2 separate regions of the Homo sapiens genome follow, and region 1 is linked to region 2. The links come from fine-mapping of genetic effects on plasma protein levels. Region 2 holds a variant in brackets. A gene starts in the other region. All regions are shown on their reverse strands.

Evidence for each region. A credible set is the group of variants that fine-mapping cannot tell apart. PIP is the posterior inclusion probability: the model's chance that the variant is causal. The UK Biobank Pharma Proteomics Project read protein levels with antibody pairs (Olink). The fine-mapping took linkage between variants from a reference panel, not from the people measured, so its PIPs are less certain.
Region 1: it holds the start of REG1A, and the variant in region 2 is the best candidate, but not a certain one, in a credible set for the plasma level of the REG1A protein (UK Biobank, PIP 0.54).

The regions. Positions count from the first base shown.
Region 1 is chr2:79,118,329-79,123,704 of GRCh38, reverse strand. It overlaps REG1A (regenerating family member 1 alpha), which reads right to left and starts at 3,217. Exons shown (of 6, transcript NM_002909.5): 1 at 3,191-3,217; 2 at 2,780-2,889; 3 at 2,025-2,143; 4 at 1,580-1,717; 5 at 753-864; 6 at 296-557. The coding sequence starts at 2,843. The coding sequence ends at 490.
Region 2 is chr10:122,632,420-122,637,795 of GRCh38, reverse strand. It overlaps DMBT1 (deleted in malignant brain tumors 1), which reads right to left. Exons shown (of 56, transcript NM_001377530.1): 51 at 4,906-4,935; 52 at 4,455-4,605; 53 at 1,597-1,805; 54 at 484-668. Among named protein-coding and RNA genes, the nearest start is that of SPADH, 38 kb to the left of the region's middle. The variant T/C (reference allele first, on the strand shown) is at 2,748.

The DNA of each region.
Region 1 (5,376 bases), not on the chromosome of region 2:
AAAAAAAACCTGTGTAACTTGCTTTTCTGTGACATTACCCTTATTACAGTGATCTGGAACTGAATGCAAAAATCTTTGAGATATGCCAGCATGTGAGTTTTTGGTCAATCTCCATCTTGTTAACCTTGTCATAAGCAAAGCCACATATGTTCATAAATACTGAATTCCAATATGCATGGTATGCGGATGGACTTTTAAGAAGTGGATAGGCCAGAGCAAGCTTTGTTGTAATCACTCTCATCTCAACCACCCAGGCATCAGCTGTGGAAATAGCAGACACAGTAAGACAGCACAATAGTGGAAACATGTTTATTTTTATTATTTAGGGTTCCAAAGACTGGGGTAGGTAAAACTATTGAAGATTAACAAGGCAAACTCAGCAGAGAAGAGAGTGTCCAGGTTGAGTTGAGTTGGAGAGATGGTCCGGTTTAATTTTTGACTCCGTTGTAATTGCTGGATCAGTTCTAGACATGTATTTTCCAGTTGCCTCTAGTTTTTGAACTTGCAGACAAAGGAGAACTTGTCTTCACAAGGCACATCCTTCCATTTCTGGAATCCTATAAGTCAATGAGAAGAGTTACAACTGGGAGACCCGAAAGAGTATGACCCTCCTGGCTTTAGGACTCAGGACAAAAACCAAACATCCATTTCCTTAATGAGGAGTTCACCTTTCCTCTATCCCAGTCCCAGTTCCATCCCTGGAGCTAAGCAGGAGAGAACAGAAACAGGTGGATGGATTCTCTGCCTCTCACCTGTGCTTGAGGTCAGGCTCACACAGTAGCCAGGATTAACACTGCTTGGGGCTCCAATGCCCCAGGACTTGTAGGAGACCAGGGACCCACTGCTCCAGTGCCAGCGGCGGTTCTAGATGGGGAAGGGCCAGAACAGAGGCAGTGGTCACTCAAAAATACATGGAATCACTGGGCCTGTGTGCACACTCAGAAACATGCTAAGACACAAAGGAAGAATAAACCTTGCTAAATATTGTTTCCTTTCCTTTGCTATTGCTCTAAACTTCTTTCCTGAACTGTCCAACTCATTAACTGTATTCCACCAAGAAATAAGTGTTATGAATTTGACAGAGACCCAAAGTATCTCACTTAAAAAGTGGTTCCTGATTTTTTGTCTTTGTGGCCCAGGACCCTCATATCCAGCATAGCATTGGCTGACCATTAGTTGTTGATATATTATATTATTTAGTATACTACCAGGTTCCCAAATGCCAGCAGTACAGCAGCAGATTTTTACCACAAGTCTCCTTTCCTATATAGTCGGCAATCTAGTCTCTCTTGTGACTCTGACAGTAACAAAATAGGTAAGAAGTTGGTGCATAAAGATGCTTTGTTGACTGAAAACAGAATAAGTTTATTCATGAATGACAAGAACACCTAGGAAATTCAGCCTTCCACTTATATCTCCAATCATCTACAGTGCACCTTGCTACACAGGACATTAGAGGATCTGTAAACAGCCTGATTTCTGGAAAGCGATAAAAGCTGGTACTTAAGAGACCAGAACTTGAACCTCCTTCTTACTTCTCAAACCTGATCATTAGGAGATAAAGAAGGCTGCAGCCTACCTTTTTGGGGTCATGGAGGCCAATCCAGACATTGAAGTCATCAGTGCCACTCTCCTTAATCAGTGAGGCCACAAAGGCACCCTCGGCCTGGGTGAGCACAGACACCAGGTTGCCCGAATTCATGTTCTGGCAATAGAGCTGTTGCAGAAGAAAATGGAGCACTCAGTGGAGGAGGAAGTTGTGACGGATATACTGAGTCCTCCAAGAGGACGGGTCAGAAAAAGGACAGCAGAGTAATGTCCGTGATGATGCTGTCACTGACCACCAGGTTCTTTGTGCTGGGAATGTGCTGAATAATGGGATAAAGTAGATTGGAAAGTTTGGGGCTGATGATAGTATAGCAAGGGGTTCAGTCTCATCTCATTGCAGCCACTGAACACACTGGAGAGTGGCAGCTTCCCCTCCCTTCATGAGTCTCCCTTCCCACACTGCTCTCCTCACTCACATCTGCATCAACCCAGGTCTCACGGTCTTCATTAAAGTAGTAGCAGTAGGAGCGATAGGCATTGGTGCCTTCTGGGCAGCTGATCCGGGCCTGGGGCAACTCTGTCTGGGCCTCTTGGCCTGAAAAAGAAGAGACAATTAAAGGAGGCTCTCAGGGTAAGGAAAAGGCTTGAAGGTGAGGTAAGAGCTTCTGAGGTTCCTTTATAGAAACAGAAGAATCCAGTCTATTATGGGATGACTGCTCACTATTGCTCCTGCATCCTACATCTTCTGTCTTTGGTTTCTTTGATCAGGGGAAAAAAAACAGAATGAATAGGCCAAAGAAACAAGTCTCCAGTTTCCCTTTTATGTCTGGAGCTCAGGCTCTTCTACCTTGAAGGACTCAGCCTTCTACTTTCTCAAGCCTGACTTGGTTTCCCTGAACACAAGGCTCTCTTCAGTTCTCCACCCCATTAGTGACTGTCTACACACAGACATCCCCAAATCCACCATCACGTATAAATTTAATCAGATAAACTCATGCCAACTGCAGCAGTTGCTTATAAGGGGTCATTTTAAATTCTAGCTCCAACTCCTTAATGAGGTGTGGATGTATATAAATGTGAAGAGATCAGCAATAAAGATCACTAAACACCACAAAACAACCCTTAACAGTGACTCTGCTTTTTTTTTTTTTTTCAAGTAGACCCGTATGCTTGGGGATAGAGTGAAGTCTTCAGGGCTAGAAAGAGTTGGTTGGTGGAAAAGAGATCTTACCTTGGCTCTGAGACAGAAACATCAGGCAGGAGATCAGCATGAAGTATGAGCTGGTCTGAGCCATGCTGAGCTGCAATGAATCTCTTGCTTAAGAGGCAAATCAACAATCTCTATAGGAGAACACAGAGAAGGGGGTTCTGAGAGATGGAGAGCAAAGCACCTATTACCTTCCTTAAAACCTCCTCTCAGAATTTCTGAGACCAGGAAGGTCCTCTGAGACACCCACACCTTCAAATGTTTCTCTTGAGAGTGGGGATTATACAGACTCAGTAACTGAAAAACAACTTTGGATCCCACTGAGGCTTCATTACAGCTAAAACCTCTTGGACAGAAACTCATGCTGTATCTTCCCGAAGATTTTAGATCTACAGTGCATGTTAGAGACGCCCTTCTCCTGTAATGCCCACTTACCTGTTGGCTGAGTCTGAGTTGGCTTCTCAGGCCAGGTAGCTGTAGGAGCTTTATATCAGGATCTGAGATAAGAACCACGTCATTTAAGCAAAAGGGGTGGGGGCAAGCGGTGAGTTTTGGGAGCATTGACAGTAAGAGATTCTGGCACCAGTACGAGCCTTTTCCCGGCACACACTGGGAGTGGTCACAACTCAGGTCCCCTTCTGGCAAAAAATTTGGCAAGCTGTCTAAGTCCAAGGTGGACTTTGCTCTTGCTCAGCAGAAAACAACTGAGGGCTCCCATGTGCCCTAATAACCCAGAGAGGAGCAGAGAACAGTAGACTTCCTTGTATTCCCTGTAAATTTAGAGGCTCCTCTTTGGTGTCAGGCATGGGTAGGAGATGGGGAAGAATTAACTGATTCCAAATAATTTAGAACAATGTGCTTGTGGCAATAAGTGGTTCCTCCATGTCTTTTTAGGCTCACAAACCTCTCAAGACCTACCTCAAGGGGTAGGTTAAATTTATATTTCTAAACATTTAACATGTCTAACAAGGTTTGAGCTAACAAAATACACATATTCTCAATGTGAGAATTGTAGAGAGCTGATGCCTAAGGAAGCTTAAAGGAGCTAAATATGAAGTCAGGCTTCATTGAAATTGTCCATTTGAAGTCAACTGTTTGTTAGTATGAAGTCAAAGATTGTGTGGTGAAATTGAGTATTTACCAGAATCATCATAGAATAGTCATTTATAATTCAGGGAATAAAAGCCAATCAGAATGCAAAATTAGGAAGAAAAAACTAACCTGAATATTCACAGAAAGAGAGATAAGTATATGAATTGGGACAAATGGATTAACAAAATATAATAAAATACTAAACAGAATTTAAATCGAATAAAGTAGATATCTATATTTCAACTTGGACTAGTATCAAAGCCATAACATTGAATACAAAAATTCAGTTGCAAGAAGTTATAAGCTATTTGATAAACTTTATATATGGTTTTAAAAGACAGATTAATACTAAATTTTATTTATTAATCAATTCTTATACAGTTTAAAAAATAAAAATCTGAAATGTAAGAATATATATTACAATTTGTCATAGTATTTGCCTAACAATTTTAAGGTTTTTTTTTCTTTATATAAAAACTGATGATGGGCCTGGTGTGGTGGCTCAAGCCTGTCATCCCAGCACTTTGGGAGACTGAGATGAGAGGATCACTTGAGCCCAGGAATTCGAGACCAGCCTGGGCAACATAGCGAGACCCCATCTCTACAAAAAAAGTATATATATATATATATATATATATATATATATATATATATATATATATATATATATCCAGATATGGTGGCACATGCCTGTAGTCTCAGCTACTTAAGAGGCTAAGGTGGGGGATTGTTTGAGCTTGGGAAGTAGAGGTTGCAGTGAGTTGTGCCACTGCACTCCAGCCTGGGTGATAGAACAGGGAACTGTCTCAAAAAATAAAAACAAAAACTAACGATATTAAACAAAGATGACAAATGTTAACATTGTTTATTCTCACTGGTTCATATGCATTTGTTAAATTAATCCAAATTTTTTCTGCTTTTACAAAAAGTAGTTATACCTTTTAAAATGATTACAACCAGAGAATGATTCCTATTTTTTTCTATAAATAAGAGATTCAGAAATATTCTTCCGTTAACAAAGGATATAGTAGGGAAGAGTCGGGTATACTTGGTATCATTACATATTTATCTTGTGAAAATTAAACAAGCAATTAATTTTTAAAAAATCTAAGATAAAAATACTTTATGGCATAATGTTTTCTTTTCTTTTTTTAACTTTAATCTTTTTTTTTTTTTTTGAGATGGAGTCTGGCTCTGTCACCCAGACTGGAGTACAGTGGCTCAATCTCAGCTCACTGCAAGCTCCGCCTTTGGGGTTCACGCCATTCTCCTGCCTCAGCCTCCCGAGTAGAGTAGCTGGGACTACAGGCATCCGCCACCACACCCGGCTAAGTTTTTTTATTTTTTTTTATTTTTAGCAGAGATGGGGTTTCACCGTGTTAGCCAGAATGGTCTCGATCTCCTGACCTCATGATCTGCCTGCCTCAGCCTCCCAAAATGCTGGGATTACAGGCGTGAGCTAACACACCCACCCTTTAACTTTAATTTTAAGTTAAGTGGTACAAGTGCAAGTTTGTTACAGAGGTAAA
Region 2 (5,376 bases):
TTCCCTGCCTACTGCAATGTGCAGGCCTCCTCCAAGGCCTAGCAATGTGTTTGCACAGCCATACGTTTTTGCAAAGTTTATAAAAGTTCATAGATATTGCATTCTTTGACTTAATGAGGCCCCTGCCCATCTCAACACCTGCCTCTCACCCCCAACCCTAACTGTATAAGCTTCAGGCCCTGCAAAATCTGGAGCTGCTCCAGGAGCTGCTGTTGTTATTGCTGATGGGAGTGGCGGTCTGCCAGAAGCCCTCTCTGCTGGACACAGCTGGAGATACTCTTTCTGCTCAGCTTCCTTCTTCCTATTTGGAAGTAGCTGCAGCCATATCATAGCACCAAAGGTTTTTTATCTTCCTTTATTCCAATTATGTCCTGATTATCCCAAAATCATAATTTCTTCATCCCCAGAATTCAAGAAGCACAGGACATACCGCTCTAAGAAAGCTTGTGCACTGGGAAATGGAATGGGAAGCCCCAGGCTTACCTGCTTGAAGGTGCCGCAGCCTGAGTAGGGAATTGTGAATATCACCAGGTTCGGCGTTATCTGGGGCCGACACTCGTAGTATCCATTCCAGGTGGAAATGACAAGGTCACTGGCAGAAAAGCCCAAGGATTGGAGATAGCTCCTGCTCACACTGGCTTGCATGTGATTTGGCAGACAGAGCAGGTCTGATAGACAAGGACAGATAAGGCACTCAGTCACTGCCCCAGACTCCACAAGTCCTACGGGGCCAGAGGCTGTTTCCACTTAAAAAGTGCACAGACCAGGGTGGCTGACAGGGAGGGTCAGCACTTAGGATGTGGGCATAGACCTCACTGCAATCCCCCAAGGACCCGAGGGTCAAGTCAGCCCCATCCTTATGAAAGCCCAAGGAGAGCACGTGGACTCAGGATTTCTCTGATGGAGAATTGGAGGCAGGATTTTTAAATAAGTGGTATGTTTGGCCAAGTTACCATTTATCTATAAAGTAAAGTAACTGTATGATCAAATTGTGGGAATGTCATGAAACAAGGTCTTTTAGCCATGAAGCAAGTCAGTCTTTAATCCTGACTGCATAAGAGACCCTGGATGTCACCTTGCCTGGCCCTTGGCCATTCTACATATCAGTCCATACAGCAACTCAAATCATGGCCATACAGGCTCTGCTGGAAGTGTCTGAGTGACCTTATCTCAGCCACTTCCAGCCACCCAGCTCAGTCCATCTTCAGATAGAAACCAAATGTGTTAGGTCTCAGGCCATGGCCACAGTGTCCCACACTCTGAGAAGGTCACAAGGTTTCAAGCCAAGAGGTCACCTCTGCCTTTGGCACTGACTCATCACTCTCCACGAAGAGCATCATCTGGGACCCTCTACTTAGTCTCTGCTGACCACAGTAAGACCAATCATCACCCATCAGCCAGTTCTAGCCCTGACTTTATTTCTGGGCAGCCAGAGTCCCAAGTCCCACTGCTCCTGGTCCCTTTCAGCTGAAAATCAAGCCCTGGTGACCTGAAAGGGTTCCTTCATTTCTTATTTCACAACAACAGGACAGTTGAGCCACAGATGCTCTCAGGATGTCCCCAGTCCCAACAGAGCATTTCCACAAGGGGACTTACTGGTGCTGTCATTGGAGGGACTGGAGTAGTACTCAGCCCGGAACCCTCTCCTTGTGATGCTGTGGTCACTGATGAAGCGAATGGACATGAAGTTGGAGGAAGAAGTGAAGGAGCCTCTGGCCCCATCACAAACTCGAGCAATGAGAGGGGAACTGCGGTAGGGGCCATCGAAAACTTCAATATAATCATAGTTGCAGCCACCTTCAAGCCTGCAGAGAGAGGACACACCATTTGGCTTCATTTCCTCCCAGAATTTGACGCAGGGGGTCAGATCTCAGGGTGGGGTCACACCTCTGTGCCAGAAACTCTGACAAAGTTCATCGATGAAAGTCATAGGTCTCCTTGGCTGGGCGCAGTAGCTCACACTTATAATCCCAGCACTTTGGGAGACCAAGGCAGGTGGATCATCTGAGGTCATAAGTTCGAGACCAGCCTGGCCAACGTGGTGAAACCCTGTCTCTACTAAAAATCCAAAAATTAGCCGGGCGTGGTGGCACAAGCCTGTAGGGTGAGGGAGGCTACTCAGGAGGCTGAGGCAGGAAAATCACTTGAACCAAGGAGGCAGAGGTTGCAGTGAGCCGAGATCGTGCCACTGCACTCCAGTTTGGGCGACAGAGTGAGGCCCTGTCTCAAAAAATAAAAAGAAAAATAAAAATTGAAACAAAAGAAAGTCATAGGTATCCTTAAATCAAGAGAGTCTCATCTTCCCTCAACCTCCATGCCTGGGTCTTAGTCCTGCCCTTTGCAATCACACATATGAAATCTACAGCCCCTCACCTGTCAGCCCTTTACATCAGGAAAGGAAGGGCTCGCATCCTGATTTAGACCATTTTTCTTCCATCGAAAAGTCCCTAGTGCCCCCACAGAATAAAATCAATATGCATGAATTCATAGTGAGAGAAATAAATAATTGAATAAATAAATACTGGGCAAGTCAAATAATCTCTCTAAAGCTTTTCCTATTTACAAAGGCAAAGTAATCTGATCCATGCACACTGAAGAGGGCTATGGTGAAGCTCAAATAAAACAACATACAGAAAAGGGCTTTGTAAAATGTCACAAATGGTGATGGTCATTGCTATCAAGATGCTGGTTAAAGAACCAGTCATGGTCAACCTTTTCCCATAGGACTGCATCAGCTTTAAGTGCAA[T/C]CTTTGTATTGTAATGACAAAGAGAATAAAATGATGTATCTTTTGCAAAATCCCAAATGAATCACTAAAGCAGAGACTCCAAAGCCCACTGCAAACAGAAATCAACAGGGAAAACTATTTTGTTCAACAGTGGCTGTTAGAGAAGAAATTAGTGTAGCCCCTTGTTCAGGACACTAGCAAACACTGGTGCCTCTTCACAGTTAGCTGGGCCACCCGCCTCCTTGGATAAATCATATATTAATGTACTTTTGACATCAGGCATGGTGGCTCACACCTGTAATCCCAGCACTTTGGGAGGCCGAGGTGGGAGGATAACCTGAGGCCAGGAGTTGAAGACCAGCCTGACCAATATGGTGAAACCCCGTCTCTAATAAAAATACAAAAATTAGCCAGGCATTGTGGCGTGTGCCTGTAAGCCCAGCTACTTGAAAGGCTGAGGCAGGAGAATCGCTTGAACCCGGGAGGCAGAGGTTGCAGTGAGCCGAGACCGTGCCACTACATTCCAGCCTGGGTGACAGAGCGAGACTCCATGTCCGGAAAAAAAAAGAAAGAAAGAAAAAGAGAGAAAGAGAGAGAGAGAGAGAGAGAGAGAGAGAGAGAGAGAGAGAGAGAGAGAGAAGAGAGAGAGAGAGAGAGAAAGAAAGAAAAGAAAGAAAGAAAGAAAGAAAGAAAGAAAGAAAGAAAGAAAGAAAGAAAGAAAGAAAGAAAAGTGCTTTTAGTAATGTCCTCTCTGCTTAAAACGATGATTTCTACTTATGATTGGATGCAGAGCAGATACCCTACCCTCTGGAGCAGCAATTCCTCCATCTCTGCCCGACCCCTGGGGAACTCACATGAAGAAAGGAATGGGTGGAGAAAAAGGGTTCCACAAAACAGATACAATTGTTCTTTTTGTTTTGTTTTGTTTTCCTGAGACAGGGTCTCGTTTTGTTCCACAAGCTGGAGTGCACTGGCGCTATCATAGTTCACCACAACCTTCAACTCCCAGGGCTCTAGCGATTCTCCCACCTCAGCCTCCTTAGTAGCTGGGACTACAGGTGCAGGCCACCACACCCAGCTAATTTTTGTACTTTTTTGTAGAGATGGGGGGTCTCCCTATATTGCTCAGGCTGGTCTTGAACTCCTGCATTCAGGTGATCCTCCTGCCTCGGCCTCCCAAAGTGTTGGGATTACAACCCTGAGGCAGCATACCTGGCCAGTGTGGTTGTTAATAGGATTATTAGTGCTATTATTGCCCCTAAGTCTATCATTACTACTTAACAACCATCTTTTCCACTGGACAACATTTTGTAAATATTTTCACATCTCTCTCCCTCTCTCTCCTCTCTGTTTCTCGTGACCTTCCCAGTAAACAGTGAGGTGAGGAAAGCAGGTATTTTATTCCCCTCTTTTGACTGAGGCTCAGGAAAGTTGAGTGACTTCCTGTGGTCACACAGCAAATTGGTGAAAGACCTAGGACTTGAAACCAGAGCTTTTGTCCACTCCAAGGCTCTCGTGCCCCCTCCCCAACTCTCCACGGGATGCCTCTGGGCTAGGTCAAAAATGTCTCTCAGCAAACTTCTCTCCTGGCTTTCTAAGCACCATTTATTCCCTCTTGAAAGGTCTGTGGGGCCCCAAGGCATTCTTCTGGGCGCACACTTAAGCACCATTTATTCCCTCTTGAAAGGTCTGTGGGGCCCCAAGGCATTCTTCTGGGCGCACACTTACTGGACATCTCTGAAGATCACAGTCACACGGTAGTTGTTTTGCACCTCAATGTCCCACACACACTTGGCATTGTTTGGATAGTTCCCGGGATAGAATGGGCTGGAAAAGTCCCCTGATGGTTGGGATAGGAAGCCTCCGCAGGAATAATCTGCTGTCAGGACAAAAAGTGGGAATGTCGGTGACCCCCAGAGCACACTGCACAGTCTACCTGCGGACTACTTTAAATTTAAATTACTTTAAAATTTTATAAAATAATTCCCAAGACAGAAACCAAGTAAGAGCAAGAGGTGGCCTAGATCTGGACCGTCCACTGAGGGCTGGCAGGGCACTCTTGCAGGGAGACCACTTTGGGGGAAGCCATCTCCTCCCCAGCCCCATTGTCACTGAGGAAATGGGAAGGGGAATTTCCAGGCCACTCTGCCACAGACTTGTCAGGGAGCTCAGAACTTACTGTTTGGACGGGTGATGTTGAGAAAAGGAGCTGTTGACAAAAAGAAAAGATCAGGATCAGTTTTCTGGCATCCCTGACACAGCTGTCGACTGCTCATGAGCTGTGCAGATGCTGTGCCAAGCCTGAGTCCACAGGGAGGAGCTGGACACAGGCCTTGCCCTTGGGGAGCTCACTTGCCTTTGGGGAGGTCTGGAGGAGAGCGAATCCCAGCACACTGGGAAAAGGATGAGATTGACCAAAGCCTGGGGAAGGAGAGGAGCCTGGAAGTCTGGCCCCTGCCCCAGATGGAGTGGGGAAAAAAGGGCAGTAATTAGGGGGCAGGCAAAGAGGTAGAAACGGGGTGTCCCAGGCAGAGGAACAGCAGGTGCAACTGCACCTGGGTGGAATAGATTTGGGAACCTCCGTGTAGATGGAGCAGGCAGAGGATGGGGAGAGGGCACCAAGCATAGGGAGCAGATCATGGGGAGCCCT